Regions from separate parts of the Homo sapiens genome. Here region 1 is linked to region 2. The links come from fine-mapping of genetic effects on plasma protein levels. A gene starts in region 2. The other region holds a variant in brackets. All regions are shown on one strand. Distances are from middle to middle.

Evidence for each region. PIP is the chance, under the fine-mapping model, that this variant and not a neighbour inherited with it causes the effect. Protein levels are from antibody-based Olink assays in UK Biobank. Linkage for the fine-mapping came from a reference panel and not from the study's own genotypes, which makes the PIPs less certain.
Region 1: its variant is fine-mapped to the plasma level of the HGF protein (UK Biobank, PIP above 0.99). The variant lies in the coding sequence of HGF. If it changes the protein, the assay may bind it differently, which can mimic a change of level.

What each region holds. Positions count from the first base shown.
Region 1 is chr7:81,728,319-81,731,236 of GRCh38, reverse strand. It overlaps HGF (hepatocyte growth factor), which reads left to right. Exons shown (of 18, transcript NM_000601.6): 8 at 1,458-1,632. Among named protein-coding and RNA genes, the nearest start is that of HGF, 40 kb to the left of the region's middle. The variant G/A (reference allele first, on the strand shown) is at 1,502.
Region 2 is chr7:81,768,427-81,771,344 of GRCh38, reverse strand. HGF (hepatocyte growth factor) reads left to right here and starts at 1,298. Exons shown (of 18, transcript NM_000601.6): 1 at 1,298-1,461. The coding sequence starts at 1,374.

The sequences.
Region 1 (2,918 bases), 40 kb after region 2:
TGCACAGTACAACTTATTTCAGTAATTAGGGTAGTCATTAAGGTAATGTTTTCCCTTTCTTCACAAAGCTTCGTAGAATAACTCTAAACATAAGCTATTGTTTAGTTTGCCTAGGTTAGCTCATAGAATGCAATGAAATAAAGCATTCAACTAACTACATAAGGTAGAAATGGTTTGTATGAGAGAGGTGTTTAGATGAAATTTAAAAGCTATTAAAAATATTTACACTATTAACTATAGAAAACTTTCATAGGCATCCCTAGTCACTGAAAGCATGTCTAATTCTGGCCTGTCCTTCGTACAGTGGTACATCCAATTCCAAAATGGATAAATCAATGAAATTTACTCAAATCTTAAACTGTCCTAGAGGCTGCCAACTTGAGTTTCATCCAGAGGCATCTTGAATGGCCATTTAGATTGTAAAGGTAGCTGGGAAGTTTACACTTTTATCAAACCATAAACATTTTCATGTATGTTTTAAGAAGATATATGAATTTTAGTTGCTCTGGAATGTTTTGAGTTACATTTTGATTGACTAAACATTACAGAGAGAGAGAGAGACCAAATTGTGGTAAAAATTTAATTTTATACTTTTATTACTTAGTGACTGAGGGTTTCAAATCTTCATGACGTATAGTAAGCATTGAAGTTGGACTAGGAAAAAAAGCAGGAGATAGATCTTCCTAGGAATAACTGATTTTTTCTTTATTGTCAACAAGATGACTAAAAATATATTTAACATGTTAGCTTAGAATTTATTTATTTATTTAATTTATTTTTTGAGACAGACTTTCACTCTTCTTGCCCAGGCTGGAGTGCAATGGCACGATCTTGGCTCACTGCAACCTCCACTTCCTGAGTTCAAGCCGTTTTCCTGGCTCAGCCTCCCAAGTAGCTGGGATTACAGGCACCTGCCACCACCACTCCTGGCTAATTTTTTTTGTATTTTTAGTAGAGATGGGGTTTCACCATGTTGGCCAGGCTGGTCTTAAACTCCTGACCTCAGGTGATCCACCCACCTCAGCTTCCCAAAGTGCTGGGATTACAGGCATAAGCCACCATACCTGGCCAGAATATATGTATTATATTGGAGGAAAATTATGGTTAATTTCATTACCACTTTGTATGTACTTATAAGCAAGCTGATTTTAGAAATAATTGTATAGTCATTTCAGAAACACTATATATTCAGCATATATAAGTTATACATGTGGAGGTAAAATGCATTTAAGTAACTTTTCAAGAAAAAACTAATTTAGGATTTGAATGAAAGGAAAATTGGAATGAAGTTAGTAATAATGTTAAGTTAAATTTCTTATTCCACTCAATTATTATAAAAGCTTATAAGTAACAGAAAAAAAAATCTGCTAATACAAATGCCAATGAACTCTAAGAGGCAAATGACATCTTCAAAGATTTTATATAAGTTTTTTTTTGTTGTTGTTTTTTGCCAATAGCTGACAATACTATGAATGACACTGATGTTCCTTTGGAAACAACT[G/A]AATGCATCCAAGGTCAAGGAGAAGGCTACAGGGGCACTGTCAATACCATTTGGAATGGAATTCCATGTCAGCGTTGGGATTCTCAGTATCCTCACGAGCATGACATGACTCCTGAAAATTTCAAGTGCAAGTGAGTAAAGTAGGCAAATGTTATACATTTCAGTAGGCCCTGGGGAAAATGAGGTAGAGTGGTTACTTTTTACTAATTTTGTGTTAGTGATCAAACTTCAGCGTGCCCAGTGATAATCAGGAGTTAAAAGGCAGATTACACCTCCACTCAGAGATTTTGATTCTCTTAATCTGGGATTTGGTCCTCAAATATGCATTTCATTAAGGACCCTAGGTGGTTCAGATCCAGAGGGTAGATTCACTATGCTTTGGGAAACACATCCCTAGGTGGATTTCTGATCACAGTTTTGCTCTTCTGGGTCTGTTTAGTAAATCAGTTAATAGTCATGGCAGCCAGGCATGTTTCAAAATACTGCCTTCTTAAATTTTCGTATTAGCTTTGGGAGGATTACACATTTTTCCTTTCGAAAGAATGGAAAGAAAAGGCCTACCACTGAAGAGTTATTAGCCTTAAAGATCTGTGAATAAAATAATTTTTCAAAGCTTAAATGAATGTGTTCAGTTGTTTCTGGATTTGCTTTGAAAAGTGGGGAAGCAAATCAATTGTGTAGATGACTCAAGCCAAAGAAACTGCCCTTGAGTATCAATTACATAGTTGTTTTGTGCATTCTCTATGGGTACTTTTCACACCATTTGACTTTTGCAGACAGGCACAGACACAATGCCATGTGTTTTTAAATTGTCCACCTTGTTATGAGGAACATAAAGTGATTGCTTTTGAAATTAATAACACACATCATTCATAGTGGCTTTTCTGAAATAGCACCTATAAATAACATATATTGGCTTTATGTAATTGGCTTTTAATAAGACAGCCTAACATTTCTGAATGAAGAGCTATGAGCACTAGTTGGCCCATCCGCCATAGGAGAGGGGAGATTTGTGTTGTATGTGTGTGTGTGCATGCACAAGCTTTAGCTAGTTCTGTAATTTATTTGTTTAAATAGTAAATATTAATCTAAGATTTTTTCCCATTAGTTTACAATAACAAAATTGACAGTTGTCATGCTGGGTTTATTTCCCTCATTTCCATCACAGCAATTCACTCTCTATTCGTGACCCATGGGTTTCACACCTGAGAAATACATATCAAAGTAGAAAAAACAAAGAAACAGAGAAAATATTAGTTATAAGGGACAAAGGAGATAGTGTCACTGCCATTCACATTTTTGTTAACTTCTAATGACTAGTAATACCCAATAAGAAATTGTGTACGTAAAGATACCTAGTGAAATTCATCTGTAAGAAAAACAGAATGGATATAAACATTTAATTCACAGACTTCAC
Region 2 (2,918 bases):
TACAGGGGCAAGTATCCCTCAGCATCCATTAGAAATAAAGCAGGCTCTTGCTTAAAGTTACCAGAGCATCCACCTCTGGGTGCAAAGACAAATTCTCTGAATCAAGTGAGGGGTCTGGGCAATGATCTCACAAGGATTTGATACCTAGGAGTCCCCCCATGCCCATACAAGCTCCTCATCTTTCCACTTACACTTTGGGAAGCTGGCTGTCGTGTACAGGCAGATGAAGCTGGAAAAGAGAGGCATATTCAGTACTCACGAATTCAAACAGCTTGAGGGATTTCCGGTGAAAGTCAGTCCTAACCAGTGTATACGTACATACACACCAACATGTGTGAATGTGTTGTGTGCACGTGTGTGCCTGTACAAGTCCACATGGCATATTTACCTGTCAGGGACAGGCTATGGACAATGACTGTTTCTTGGACTTTCTCTTAAAAAGTCAGATCAGACAAGTTTATTTTGTATACTTTGGGTAAATGTGTGGTATTTCGTGAGTTTGGCAGTTTGTGAAAAAAAAAAAAAAAAAAAAAAAAAAAAAAAGCTGCCTGCTCTGAGCCCATGGGGCAGGGGCAATTTTTTCATCTGACAATCTGCGTGCTTTTGTTTTGCTTGCTTATTTTGGCCCCACAATACCACACCCTTTTCTTAACTAACCTCTTTCTACCTGGGCTGGACGTGCCTGGGCTCTCCTCCCTGGCCCCGCTCCCACCTCTCCCAGGTCTCTAAACCCCTAGAGAACCTGTGTCAGTGTTTTGAATCCCTCAGTTGCTCTAGCAGGAAAACTAGACAGATTAGGAGCTGGGGCACATTTGGCTGAAAGACAGCTCTTCGCTTTCTTCTTATGCTGCTTCCCCTTCCTCTTTTCCCAAATAGATATATAAACACATGTATTTTCCTGTTTAAATTGAGCGAATTGGTCCCCTGCCTGTGCCTTGATTTAGCCATTGGGCTCAGCCTTGCTCCTCCCTTCCTTACTCGGATAGGAGCCACTGGGATCTGGAGCTCCAGCTTCCAAATTGAAGCTGGCCTCAGGCCAGGTGACCTTTTCTTTGTAAGTTTCTTTCCTAAGCGTGGGGTTGGGGGGAGGCGGGGAATGGGGGGGGTTGCAGGGATCTGTTTGGTGCTGTTGAAGGGGGGGCGAGTGAGGAAAGGAGGGGGCTGGAAGAGAGTAAAGGGCTGTTGTTAAACAGTTTCTTACCGTAAGAGGGAGTTCAGACCTAGATCTTTCCAGTTAATCACACAACAAACTTAGCTCATCGCAATAAAAAGCAGCTCAGAGCCGACTGGCTCTTTTAGGCACTGACTCCGAACAGGATTCTTTCACCCAGGCATCTCCTCCAGAGGGATCCGCCAGCCCGTCCAGCAGCACCATGTGGGTGACCAAACTCCTGCCAGCCCTGCTGCTGCAGCATGTCCTCCTGCATCTCCTCCTGCTCCCCATCGCCATCCCCTATGCAGGTTAGTTCCCTTCTTCTTCTTCATTATTAGTATTAGTATTTAACTCTCCTGCTAACCTTCCCTATTCCTTTTAACACCCTCTTTTTACCCTATTCCCAGCATCCTTTCTGAACTCAGTATGTAGTATAGGTTTCTAAAAGCTCTCATTATGCTTTTTTTGACATTCTTTTTTGTTGTTGTTTGAATAGCATTTAAAATGATAATTAACTTTCCCTCAACTCCCCTCCACCTCCAACCCAAGCCCCGTCCCACTTAGCCTAATAGTTGTGGATTATGAGATAGGGAGGAAGTGCTAATACTGGCTGAACTTGGCTGCTTTGGACAAGTTTAAAGCTAAAGAGAGGGTCTGGTCTGAAGAGGCAAGAGTGATGGTCAGTCCGGCAGGAAGTCATCCTTTTCCAGAGAACAATTTTTCATGATAATGCACTACTCCACATCACCTAGTCAACATTTGGAGCCAAATTACGACTTTGTACAGGTTTTCATTTTGAGGAGGCAGAATAAACTCTGAGTATTTGCATATCATAAAAATGAAAGAGAAAGCCTCTTTTTAAAGATCTTATTCTTTCTGGGTACGGATGCCTGCCCTTTGAAACTGCAGTGCACGGAGACTTTGATTAAAGCTGCAGAACTGCCCATCTCTGTCTCCCACTTTCTCCCTTGGATTTGCCGTTTGGGGAGGAGTTGCTTGAAAGTTCATATTGCTTGGAGATTTAGAGATCTCGTTTGCTGCTCTGGGAAGTTTCTCTTGTTATCAGGGCAAGAGGAAACATCTGTATTTTGTTGTATCATTGTAGAGGCTGAGGTGCCAACGGGAGAAGGCAGTGAATATCAAGGGTAGGCGCAGGGGAATAAAAGAGTGGGAACAAATGCCCAGATGGAGACATGGCCTTTTTACAATATAAAAAAGAGAACTGGCTGTATCTTTTGAGATGGTAAATATGACATTTATCAGACCTTTGATCTAGTTTTTGATATGGTACAAGGGTTAAAAAACTCAAGAATTTTCTAAATGCAAAGGAAAATCATTCAACCCACCTGGTTTTCTTTTATTTTGTGAAGTGGCCCGTTTGGAAAATGACACTGTTTGGAAAGGGTCACTCTGAAAGCATTTAGGTAAGATTTCTGAAGAAGTGAAAAAGCAGTGAGTTCAAATCAAGCAGGTTATCATGCTTGACATGTGTCATGTTAAAATCGCTTCACAGGGTCGGGTGCGGTGGCTCACGCCTGTAATCCCAGCACTTTGGGAGGCCGAGGCGGGCAGATCACGAGGTCAGGAGATTGAGACCATCCTAGCTAACAAGGTGAAACCCTGTCTCTACTAAAAATACAAAAAATTAGCCAGGCGTGGTGGCAGGCACCTGTAGTCCCACCTACTTGGGAGGCTGAGGCAGGAGACTCTCTTGAACCTGGGAGGTGGGGGTTGCAGTGAGCCGAGATTGTGTCACCGCACTTCA